Linked DNA regions of Homo sapiens: all the other regions are linked to region 1. The links come from fine-mapping of genetic effects on gene expression. A gene starts in region 1. Each other region holds a variant in brackets. All regions are shown on one strand. Distances are between the middles of the regions. Region 1 holds the start of ARHGAP31 (Rho GTPase activating protein 31). Region 2 holds the start of LOC124906273 (a long non-coding RNA gene). Region 3 overlaps ARHGAP31 (Rho GTPase activating protein 31).

Region 1 (4,242 bases):
GGAGGGCAGAGGAACCTAACAGGCCAGGGAGGGCCCTCCGATCCTTCATGATTAGCTGTACAACCTCAGGCAGGCCAATTTACCCCTCTGGGCTTCTTTTCCCCCTCCCCAGGGTGGGGAACCCGGGGTACTGGTTTGCCATTCTTTTAAGCAGTAGTCTCTGTTTTTTTTTGTCTAAATGAAACATATGCAGAAGCCCAAAATATAAAGCAGGTGAAAGAACAGCTGCCTAAAGCTGCCTTTGACATATCTTCATAGAACCCTGGGGTTCTGGCTCATCCTATAATCTATTAGTTTGTAAGAACGAACAGGGCTGGCAAGCACCCCTATGCAACTCTCACAGATTTGAGGGAGGGGCCAGAATAACACCCGCATGGTGAAAGGTGGCATCCCAGGAGCATTCCTAGTGTACCTGGAGGTTAACTTGAAGGCCCCTGCAAAAATAGGTGAAGAGGAACCTTTCATTGTAAACTTCTGACGATAGTGGTTAAGAGGCATACTTGGAGTTTTCTCACACTCAAAAAAACTCAAACCAAGTGATTTTTATCTCAAATCTACCTCTCCAGATGGTTGGTGAGGATTCAATGAAGTGTTAAGTTATGCATCAATTTCAAAAGAGTCAGTTTTGAAACCTGTGGTTCTCCAAGCTCTAAAATCCTAAGCTATTTGTCCTAATGACACAGCAGACTGAACTCTAGAATACCACAGGAATATCACACCACTGCAAATTACTAGGTGGTGCTGAGTCTCCCAAAACACAGAAGTGAAACAAAAGCATTGCACTGTTTTTGAAATGCATATTCGATATGGACTAATCAAATAGGTTTTGAGATTATTTTCCTGGAGGCAGAATTATTCCGCACGGTTACACAGCCCTTAGTTTTCCCCTTTGTTGTATCTATCTATGTATAAACACATGGCCTATATAGTAGGCTATTTTCCTCTCGCTGAAGCTTCTGAAGACAAGGCCTTTTTGTCAAGGGTAAGTGCAAAACCAGTCAACCTTACAAAAGGAGTCATTTAATGCTCAATTTTCCAACTTTCCTATGATTAAACACTTCTAAGCTCAAACGCTGTTATTGTAATCTAGATGGTGTTTTCTTTCCCCCTTCCCCAACAAATGTTTAAATTGTCTCCGCTGGATTCCCCCATCCCCAACTCCCCCCTACCCCCATCTGACCTTGAAAACAGAGAAGTTTTCCTTTTCTCTACTTACCCTAAACTATTTAAAAATGGAGGCCCTCTGACCTTTTTACAACACTCTTCTTGTCTGACACACCAAATGTTAATCTGAAAGCCAAGAGGAGGGAAAAGGTCTTGCAGGGCGGGGAGGGGGTTGTGGAAAGGGGGTGGAGGTACTATATATTTGGCATCAGCTCAGAAATTCAGAAATGTTTGTGCAACCACTCCCCCAGCCAGGATCCTCCCCCACCCCCCACCCGCAACTGCCTTCTAACACATTAATAAAAAAAGATGTGAGCAGACGAAATTGGAGAGCCCAGGAGGGACAGCTAAGGCGGTCATGATTTTGTACCCAGGCAAGACCACTGATCACCATCCCACATGTCCACCCCTCCTCCCTCCCTTCCAACGTGCCAAGTTTAGGATTGGGACCTCTGCAGCTTCCACCCCCATCCCCTGAGGTGGCCCGGTAAACTTGCGGCAGTACCACCCATTAACAGCTTGTGTGAGGCAAACGGAAGGACTGACACAGCAGCCTCTGCGCGTCGGGACAGCAGCGCTGTGCACCTTAAGAATCGTTTATGTTCTTTAAAAAAAAAAAAGAAAAAAAAGTGCAATGAGCGCACAGGCCTGGAATACATTAACTTGTGAACCGACTCTATCACAACTCGAGAGAGTCCGTCTCTCCCTCAAACAAAAAGAAGGTGGGGGCGGGGGAGAAAGGCCAAGGCACATTACCATCCTGTCCCGAGCTTTCCAGATACTCCGTCAGGTCACAGCCAAACGCGCTGGCGGCTCCCTTTCGTTTCAGCTTCTGCTTAGCACCCTTGTTCTTCATGAGTTAGTCCCAAAGAGGCTGCCCCTCCGTCTCTGCCGCCCCTCTGCTTGGCACCGCTGTAAGATGGGCTCCCGGGCTAGATCACCGGCTGCCCCGCGGCTCTGGGGGGCCGCATCGGAAGATGGAAGAACTTGGGCTGGGGGCCCTGCGCATGGACCCCGCGGGCCGCGGGCCGGCAGAGCCTGAGATCCACCCCGCGCCGCTCCGGGGCCGCCGTGCCGAGGCCGTGCAGACTGGCAGCCGCGGGCCGGCTCGCCTGGGAGTGTCACTTCCTCACTTGGAGTCCTAGGGACTTTCACAGGCTCCTGCGGTGTCTTCGGGTGTTTCTCCTCAGCTTAAGAGGGAGGGCAAGCTCTCCCCACCCCTTACTAAGTGCCCCGGAGACGACGCGGACGCGGGGCGAGGAGACTGCCCAGGGGGCTGCGGTGGGTCCTGCGCCCTGGGCCCGCTGTCTCGCCTTCAGACGACTTTGGTAGAGCGAAAAACAAGCATCCTGTCGCTGCTGCCCGCCCTCACGCCTTCCTTTTTTTCCTGTCTTACAAATCCTAGGATCATCCAGCTCAGGAAATGCTGGAAGGAAGTTAGCTAGGGAGGGGGGCGGTGGGTGGAAATTTTTGGCAGCTCGGTGCTTGTGAGTGTGTGGAGCTAGAGGAAGTAGGTGGGTGGGTTGAGGAGCACGGGGTTGGGGTAGAGAACGCGTTCTCCCGAGAGCAGTTCTGCGACTCCAGAGATAACTGGGCAGCCCCGGAGGAAATCGCGCTCTTCTCGCAGGACCCGCAGCCGCAGCCGCCGCTTCCTGCCCCGCCGAGCCGGCTCTTTGAAGTGGCGGGAGGAGGTGCGCTGGCATTCTGCGGGGACCGTGCTGGTTGGGACTTTCAGAACCCTCTGCCCTGGTTTTATCCTCATTGTCATCGTATCTTTGACACTTTCTATTTCGGTGCCCGCCTGTCTGCTACGCAAATACTTAAAGAGTAATGACAGAGACAAACAGGGGACTCCAGCGGAGAAACCTGACAGGCAGTGGCTTCACGCCGGCCACTCCCATCCCAACCTCCTCTGCAGCGTTCGTGCACCCCCACCTCAGCTCACTCCCCTCCCACTCTGGGGTAAAGATACCCCTGGGCAAAGAGAGGCTGCAGCTTTGTAACCACTGCCCAGGAAATCAGATTTCTGGTTACATATTCAAGACACACACACACACTACTGCAAAGTTTTCTAAATGGAAGTGATTTGGGGGGGACAAACCAGGATTTAAGATGCCTCTGACACATGAAATGTGAAGAAAGCAGTCTCCCAGGTTCTTTCATAATTTGTTTCAAGTTGTTTCAAGAGGGCATGTTTTTTTCTTCTCCAGTTAGATTTTAAATTCTTTAACTTCTGTGTACTCAGCACACAGAAAGCACTCAAATTCTTGTGATTTAACCATTTGAGGATTAGATGAAACTTCCTGTATAAATTCAAATCCATATACAGGCTTGAAGGATAGGGGCATATGTCATACAGCTCAGATTGCTGGCAAAGCTGCATCCGTAGCATTTTAGGTACTGAATCCCTTTACAGTCACTGTCTCTCTATGTAACCTTAACAGTCTATGAACTTTGACCCTTGACATTTTCTCTATGTCAGAGGTCACAACTTGATAGCCACCCTGCCAGATCTGGCCCATAGATGTACTTGGCTGGCAGACACCATGCTTTAACACGTTTTAAAATTAGTAGCTAGCATTAAAAAGTTAAGAGATTTCACATAAAATCTGAATTTCTGGCTTCTCTTGAAAAAATGGAAGATCTAGTTACACCACAAGTGCATTCCCATATGGCAAGGACGGCTGATGCTGAGTTGTGGCAGGCCCCTTGGAGGCACCCTCTTTAGAGAGACGACTCTTGCAGTTTTGCAGACCCCACGGCCTGTCTTCCCCCTTTTGCACCTGCCTGGCCTCTGCTGCCACTTGAGTTTGCAGCCCAACCTCTATGAATTGTCTTTCCTGTTTTTCATTTTCCATCTCTCAGTGACACTGAGAAGCATTTGCCCCAGTCATCTTGGTGAAATGTCTTCAAGTAACCACAGACTCATTTGTCTCCTTCCTCTCCCACCTGCAAGGTAGTCCCGCCCAGACGATGAGCTCTTCACCATGCCTCTCAGCTTGGTTTATTCCTTTCCAGGCCCACTCAGTGAGGACCATCCACTCCTCAATTATTAAAGTAACTCCTAGTGGGATTTGT
Region 2 (4,242 bases), 120 kb before region 1:
AATGCTTGTCTTATTATTCCCAATGGACTGTGAGCTTCTTGAGGTCAGGATTGTGTTTATTCATCTTTGATTCAACAAGGCCAAAAGGTGCCTGGTATACTGTGAATGGGGGCTCAATAAAGGGTCTGCTGAACTGTAATGGATTCAGTGTTTTCTTTTGGATTATTTCTTTCACATATCTCTGTGGGATTACTTTATCAAAATTAATCTGCTTCTACCACACTGCATTTATTTGTGAACATTTCTATTTTGCCTACTAGACTGTGCCCTCCTTCGGAGCGGGGACAGCTTCATCTCTTTACTCTCCTCAGCACCTACATTAACTGGGATATTACTAAGAAATCAATACTGAGAAACCATAAATTTAGATGAACAAATGAACATCTAAACTCCCTTCCACTTCACTCTGCCCTCTCAGTAAGTGGACCCACAGTGCATCTCTTTGCTCAAACCAGAAACCTATGAGGTGCCTTTGACGTTTCCTTCTTTCTCAGCCCTTATCTAATCCTTCAACAAGTCCTGTCCATTCTACCTTCTAAATAGTGATTGTAGCCCTTCATTTCTATCCCCATGGCCCCACACTAGTCTACACCTCCAGCTTTTCTCTCCTGGCTTACCACATACTCCCCTCCTGATGCATTCGTGCCTCCTTTCTTCAAGCCATTCTCCACACAGAATAGAATGACCCATTAAAGACAAAATTCTGAACACCTCATATGCTTTCCCATTGCCCTTAGGTTAAACCCCAAATCCCTTCCAAGAAGTCCTGGCTCCTGCATCCCCCTGAGTCTCACTTTCTCCAGCCCAGCTATCCCAGCCTTGCTCCCATTCCTTGAATGGGAATGCTCTTTTCTACCTTGGATTCATGGCACATCTTATTCTTTCTGCCTGGAGGTCTCTCCTTTCCTAGTCCACCCACTGCCCCTTTCTTCCATCTAAGTTATCTGCCTGAATATGCACTCTACAGAGAAGCTTTCCCCGACCCTTGTGGCATGCCTCCTCCCTCTGACTAGGTTGGGTCCTCTTGCTATGTGCTCCCATGCACTCCATGCTTCCATAGCACCCCAGGAATTACTTGTTCAATCTTTTCCCAACTAGGCTGTTAGCTCCAAGAAGGCAGGGATGGTTAAAGCCTTGTTCACTACAGTGATGCCAGTGCCTGGCACAAAGTTCATGTTAAATACATGTTTTGAATGAATGAATGAACTGATGCCTTTACTTGTTCCCTTGAATCCACCCGGTTCTCTTTCCAGCACTAACTTTACCTGCTTCTCAAAGCAATGCCATTCATTCCTACAGGGTCCTCCCTGTAATAATTCAATCAATCCCCATATGAATCTCTTCATCTTTCCCCTTCAACAAATGCCAATATATCTTATAGAGACCCTAGCTCAGCCATCCTGAGGCCTCCATGGCACTCCACTCTGCCCTAACTCCCAGCACATGGTTCTTTTGTGCACGTCCTGAAAATCAAGACTCTGGAAGCAAGTTCAAAGGCATCCTCCTTTCTGGTGCCCTCCTCTGGTCACAGAGCTGCCTCTCAAATGCAGGACTCCTCCTTGGGTATCCCTGGAAAACCTCCTCACACTTTCTATTGAAGGACATCCCATAAAAACCTTCTTGGAAAATTCCACCTCTAAAAAGTAGACAAGGTTTAGTCAGCTCCAGCATTGTATTTTAACTTCTCCAGAGCCCACGGAAGGAAAGAATGGATCCTGGAAATATTTATTGTTTTGGAAATAAGTGTAGACAACTGCCCATCCAGGATGTCCAGAAGAAGAAGGCTGGACTCTGTGACTGATCATGATATTTGGGACTGGGGTATGACAAGCAGGTCTTGTGCTGCTTCTGGGATTGAATGTCATTACATTCCAAAGACATGTTACTGGCTTATGGTGACCTCAGGTCAGGAATATTTAGAGTTGAGTCTGTATTAGGGAATCTGAACAGGATGTTTCCTCCCCATCACTGCAGGACTTCTGAAAAGTCCACTGCAAAACAAATCTCAGACCTTCATTACAAGTTTGTCTCTTAAAGTCCCTTTGGCAGAAACTGATTTTTCAAAAAAAAATTTTTTTTCAATTTACTTTAAATTGTACCAAGAGCCCTTGGGAAAAAATAACTCCACCTGGCTGGAGCAGGTGGAGA[A/G]TGCACTTTACCATCTCATGGAGAAGCACAGCTTCGGCTCTGGCCCTGGGGCTCTCCTGCAGGGTGCTGGACTCCATCTCACCAGCCTCTCGTCCCTCCTCCACCACCTTCTCCGGATTTGGCCTCTTCTCTAATTCATTTAAATGTTGAGAGCTCAAGGAGCTTTCTGGGGTTTTCTTCTCCTCCAGGTGGGCGCCTGGCTCCTGGGACAGGCCTTTGCTGCATTCCACTGTCCCCGGTGCTTCAGGTACTGCCTTGGCATCCTCAAGACCTGCCTTCTTAGGTACAGAAGCTGCAGTGAAAATGAGAGTTATCAGTTAAAGGAGACTTCATTTCAAGAGAGACTCTTCCCAACACAGTCACTGTCCTGTCTCCTGGCCCTGTTTCAGAAGGATGGAGGGAATTCCCTCAGCTCACCGCCCCTTGCATTTACTCTTTTATCCTAGCAATGTCCTGGCCTGAGTTCCCAGAGTTACAGATTGTCAAAGAAGGAAGGGACCTCAAAGATCACCTAGTCCGGTGGTTCTCAACCAGGGACCATCTTGCTCCTACCGTTTTCTTCTTCCAGTGGACATTTGGCAATGTCTGGAGACATTTTTTTGGTTGCCACAACATTGGGGAGGGGTGAATGCTACTGGCATGTAGTGGTTAGAAGCCATGGATGCTGCTAAATATCCTCCACTGCACAGAACCTGCCCCACAACAAAGACTTATCCAGTCTAAAATGTCAGTAGTGCTGAAGTTGAGACACCGTGCTCTAGCCCAGTCTCTGACTTCTCAAATAACTAGTCAGACTTCGAGAAGTCTATCTAGGTGCCCAAGGTTACAAAAATCTATTATTCACATCTTGCTTCTTATAATTATGATTAACAGCTTCCTGTGTGACTCTTCCCAGGGGTTATCTCCTGTCAATTTGGATCTATCCAAAGTGATTAAGTTCTGTTCTTAAACATCTACGAGATCAGGAAGAAGCAGGCAGATCTCAAGTTTGGCCTCTATTGCTTTGCATGAAGGAAAGCCCCATTTCTTTGCATAAAGCTGTTTCCACACTCTGGATTAAAGACTGAGTGAGTACCCAGGACTGTGCTCGGCACATAGCAGGCCCTTAAGAAAAATTACCATTTACAGTGGTATTAAAGAAACCTGGGTTCAAATGCTAATTTCTCAATGAATCTTGTAATCTTGGTACAAAGGCATCATAAGACTTGCTTTTCAGGGCTGATGTGAGGATAAAGTAGACAATGGAGACAAAGCATATAGCAGTGTCTGGCACACAGCACAAGCTCAGAAAAGTTTGTTGGTTAAGATTGGTTAAGACCAAACCACTCATTGCCATTGTTTACACTGGTGTCTTCACTCTGAGGTGTCTCACCGCAAGGCCAGCCCAGCAACTCAGATCTAGTGACAGCATTCTGATGTCTGAACTAAAATGCTTCAGAATTCACAATAGTGGTATTTCCTTTTGCCCATCACTTTGCAGGCTTATTTCCTGAAATTCAGTTTTATCTTTGAATATGTAAAATATTTACAGAGTTCAAAAGTTAAAACTACAGGTCATTCCTTGGTATCCATGGGGCGACTGGTTCCAGGACCTCCCCCCAATACCAAAATCCATGTGTGCTCAAGTCCCTGATATAAAATGGCATACATAGTATTTGCATATAACCTATGCACATCTTTTTGTTTTCTAGGTTGCTTATATAATATGTAATATTATCTCTAGGTTGCTTATCTCTAGGTTGCTTATCTCTAGGTTGCTTGTAATATGTAATACACTGTAAATGCCATGCAAATAGCTGTTATACTGTATTGTTTAAGAAATAATGGCAAGAATAAAATCTGTACATGTTTAGTACAGATGCAATTTTTTATTCTGGAGAATTTTGATCTGTGATTGGTTCAATCCATGGATGTGGAACCTTTGACTGTCGAGGGCCCACTGTATATAAAAAGGCCCCTTCTTGCTGGCCCAGCCACATGTCTGCTACTCTACCAGTCCCCCTGCCAGGCCTTGCACTCTTCTGCTCTGGTCCTCCCTGTGGTTGGTTGCAATCTAACCCATTCTTCAAGACAAACCTAACAACACCTCTTTCA
Region 3 (4,242 bases), 100 kb before region 1:
CCTGGCTAATTTAAAAAAATTTTTTAGAAACAGGGTCTCACTGTGTTGCCCAGGCTGGTCTCAAACTCCTAGACTCAAGCAATCCTTCTGCCTTGGCCTCCCAAAGTGACAGCTAAACTAAACTCCAGTTTTATCATGTGTAAAATGAGAAAAAATAGAGTTGTTGTGAGGATTAAATGGGTAATGGCTATAAGGTAATTATATTGTACTAATCTGCAATAGAGTAAGTACCCATTAAAAAGTAATAATTATTGATTGTTGTTGCTGCTATTCAGGATGGATCAGGGCTCAGCAACAAAAGGGAAGACAGGAGAAGGTTCTATGAGAAGCAGTTAGAGTTGGCTTTAACCAAAATTGAGCTGTAACTCAAGCTTGTTTTTGTCTCTTGTTTAAAGTTCCCCTGTTCTTCCTCCTTGATCCAAACCTGCTCCTTCTGGGAGGTTCTGAATTAGCCCCTTGGTCTCCCAGCTTGAGGCTTCTCTCTTTCTGGGGCCCACTGTGGGACGCCCAGCCACCTCCATGCAAATCCTTTGCAAAGGCAGAGATTGCCTTTCACCTCCTCACTTCCAATGTGCCCCAGAATTCTTATCCTTTGAAGATCTGCTATTTCCACAAATCTATAAATTGATTTACTGCCCTGAAACTACCTGGTCAGCATCCCTTTGTTTGTGTATTCTAGGACATGCACTGCCTTTGTTTTCCAGGAGCTGTATTTCTGGAATTTCTCTGGTTTCCACATGTCAACCTTGATAGGCAGTGACCAGGCGCCCCTGACTGTGTCACAGAGGCCGGGTAGCAGCTCTGTCTGTAGGTCCATCGGTGTCCACCTTTGGTGTTGAAGCCTCTTTCTCATGATGCAGTTCCTTGTGGCCTTGCGGAGCACAGCAGCACATCAGAGATGTGGCTTGGTGGACAGTCCCCAAGCATTCCCTGCCCTCCTTTCTGGAGATTAACTAAGAGCTCAGGCTCCTGTGGCCTATGACTATATTTATATTACATGTTTCTGTCTGGGACCTTGGCCTGGCCTCACAGAGGTGTACTCCCCAGTTTTCTGGCAGCCTTTGTGTCCTTGAGTCCTCCTCTCTTAGCTGCGTTACTCAGAGGTGAGCCTGGACCTGCTATAGCTGTATGGCTTTGAGATTTCTCTGCTCACAGTTCATTTTGGAGGGTTCTCTGAACTCTTCTTTCTCTTTAATAATGTACAAAAAACTTAAATGGAATCAATTAAAATACACATATCTGGAAGGCTCTAAAGTTTGTGCATCTTAATTCAGTTCTCCATTTTTTCCTATACTTTATTTCTTACCTGTTTCATTTTCTAGATATGGTTAAACACCCCCTCACCAACTCCTCCCCACCCAAAACAATCCCAATACTATTCATAGTGAATTAATTTTTTAAATGTCTTTATTTATGGAATTTTAAAGCATATATTTACATATGTTAATCCACTGGTTCCCCTTTTCACATGCATATTTCAACAGCAAGCTCACGTGCCACTTACAGAGACCACACTGGTGGATTACATTTGTTACAGGGTTCAATGGCCTAACTTTAATCACAGATTCCACTAAAGTTATGACCATAAAGCCTATTGGTCTTTATTTTCCAGAGTTGCCAGCAATATTCTTCTGGTAAAAAGAAACCACTTCAGGCAATAGTTAAGGCCACAGGGAGCCACTTATATTGACACTGACAGTTCTTGAATTTCACCGCTGCATCCAGTTAGTGAAGATCTGATTAGTTTGTTCATAAGATCATAAGCCAGTGACTTTCAACACTGACTGCATATCAGAATCACCTGGGGAGCTTTTAGAAAATTACCAATACTCAGACCTCACCACAGAACTTCTGAGGCAAAATTGCTATGGTGTGATCCACTCTGTGGGCGATTCTGAGGTCCAGGTGTGAGAAGCCCTGGCCTGTGAGTTTACCAACATTTGATCCAGTGCCTGGGAATTGTTCTTTTTGAAAACCACATGGGGGTGGAAATCTTCCTAAGATCAAAGCAAACCACTTATTTCCTTTTTGTTGTTTTGTTTTGTTATTTTTTGACTTTTCATTACTGGTGAACCTCTTTCATGGCTGTACCACTGATTCTGCAACTGAAATTCTCTCTTTGACGTGCTTAAGCAAATCTCTTTTCATAGATTAGGAGTTTCTGGTCAGGTACTCTTCTCCCCAGTTTCTCCCTTAAGAATCCTATTTTCTGATTTGCATCTGTCTTGCCATACTTGTGGCAACCTGTCCTCTTCATTCAGGCTATCTTTCCATTTTGTGTAAGCTGAGTTTTGCCATACGATGATTACAGATGCAGACCCAGAATCCATTTCCCTTCTGCCCTTCGCACATAGCTCTTGTACTTCTTGGGTGTAAGTCCCATTCCTCATGCAAGGGGTTGGCTCAGGATCCCAGGCTGAAGCCAATCAGCACAAGGCACACCATTGACAACAGGGAC[C/T]GAACCATGTGGCTCAGTGAAGGATACCGAGACAAGGGGAATTTTGATGAGGCCTTCTGGAAAAGAAGGGTCCCTGCTCTTAGGAGCAAGCTACCAGAAATGTTCTTTCTCCCTCTGGACCTAGTGGGATAGTCAGAGGGAAAGCCTAGAACTACTACAGCCACTTTGCCACAGCAAAGGAAGCCAGTCTGGGGATGAAGCTGACCCAAAGGGGGACACAGCTGGGACAGCTGGGGAAAACATGGAGAAATCATGACAGAGCCCCTGTATTAAACCCCCTGAAGCCTTCCCTCTATCAGGGTGTTCAACTGCAGAAGCCAGTAAATTCCCTCACTGCATAAGTTGATTGAATTGATTTGCCATTATTTACAGCCTAAATCGTTGTAACTGCTGTACTGTGACACCCCTCCTTACTCTAACAGGCAAACACGAAGGTTTCTAACATCTGGACTTCCTGATCCTTGGCATGTGATTATCACCGGGTTTGAGGAAAGTCGTTAAAAATATTATCTCACATATTTCCTATAGGAATTAATTTTCCCCCAAATCTCTATTAAAAATTTCAAACATTTAGAAACCTACCACCCTTAAACTTACCACCTTAGTTTTGATAATTATTGACATTTTGCCATATATTTGCATTATCTATTTCTATATTGATATTTATCTACCTACCTATAATTTGCTAGTTATTTTAAAGTGTCAATATTTTGCTGCTTCATCCTTGAATACTTTAGTTTTAGTATATGTCTCCTAAGAACCATTAGCATACTATGAAAATTTATAATTCCTTAATATCATTTAATATCTTCTATATCCACATTTTCCCTCTTTGTTCCCCAAATTGTCTTTTGTTGTTTTTTCTTATTTTTGTTTTTTAGAGATGTGGTTTTGCTATGTTCCTCAGGCTGGTCTCGAACTCCTGGGCTCAAGTGATCTGCCCACCTCAGCTTCCCAAAGTGTTGGGATTACAGGCACGAACCACTGTGCTCGGTCAGCTCTTTTTTTTGTTTTTTTGGTTTTTTTTCCAGGATCCAGTCAAAGTTTGCTCACTGCATTTGTACATTTCTCTTTTACACCTTGGTTTCATAACTATTGCCTCCATTTTTATCATACTTTCAATCTATAACACTAAAGATCATTATGAAAAATTTCCTTGGTCTTCTCTTTCCTGACATAATATTCAGCTGCATTGGTTAAATTCCCCACTATATATGGTTCCCTCAGTTCCTTCCTGTATCAATTTCTATGCACTACTCAGAAATAAGTCCCATGGGGTAGCATCCTTCTTTAAAAATCACGACCCTGGGGGAGAAGGGACAGGTCTTTTCAGCAGAATTCCAATTAATAGAAAATCATCATTTAGCAAATGCCATAGGAATAATTGTTACATCCAAGAACCATCAGAGGATCCTAAAATTCATGACAAAGAGCACTTTAACCAAGGGATCACAGTTCTCTTCACACGCAATAAGATATTGACATCATGTACCTCCTAATATAACACACTGAGTCTGGCACAGGATCACTTCTGTAGGATTTCTGCAAAAATTCCTAACCTCAGTTTAACCATGAGAAAACACTGGACAAACTCTCCCTGAGGTATATTCTACTAAACAAATGGCCAGTACTCTTCCAAGTTATCACGGTCAAAAAGATGGAGGAATTGTCCTAGATTGGCAGAGGTTAAGGAAACATGACAACCAAATGTAGCGTGAGATCCTGGATTGGATCCTAGACCAGAAAAAGAACAGTAGTGGGACAGCTGGCCAAATGTGAATAAG

The links. PIP is the estimated chance that this variant, and not a neighbour inherited with it, causes the effect.
Region 2: its variant is the best candidate, but not a certain one, in a credible set for the expression of ARHGAP31 in T cells (TOPMed, PIP 0.66).
Region 3: its variant is the best candidate, but not a certain one, in a credible set for the expression of ARHGAP31 in whole blood (INTERVAL, PIP 0.76).

The regions. Positions count from the first base shown.
Region 1 is chr3:119,292,683-119,296,924 of GRCh38, reverse strand. It overlaps ARHGAP31 (Rho GTPase activating protein 31), which reads right to left and starts at 2,542. Exons shown (of 12, transcript NM_020754.4): 1 at 1,921-2,542. The coding sequence starts at 2,020. RefSeq lists a silencer at 2,110-2,229 and an enhancer at 3,070-3,119.
Region 2 is chr3:119,407,694-119,411,935 of GRCh38, reverse strand. It overlaps ARHGAP31 (Rho GTPase activating protein 31), which reads right to left. Exons shown (of 12, transcript NM_020754.4): 11 at 2,160-2,440. LOC124906273 (a long non-coding RNA gene) reads left to right here and starts at 2,409. Exons shown (of 2, transcript XR_007096027.1): 1 at 2,409-4,242. The variant A/G (reference allele first, on the strand shown) is at 2,149.
Region 3 is chr3:119,393,885-119,398,126 of GRCh38, reverse strand. All of the region lies in intron 8 of ARHGAP31 (Rho GTPase activating protein 31), which reads right to left. It overlaps LOC124906273 (a long non-coding RNA gene), which reads left to right. Exons shown (of 2, transcript XR_007096027.1): 2 at 1-1,254. Among named protein-coding and RNA genes, the nearest start is that of TMEM39A, 68 kb to the left of the region's middle. The variant C/T (reference allele first, on the strand shown) is at 2,459.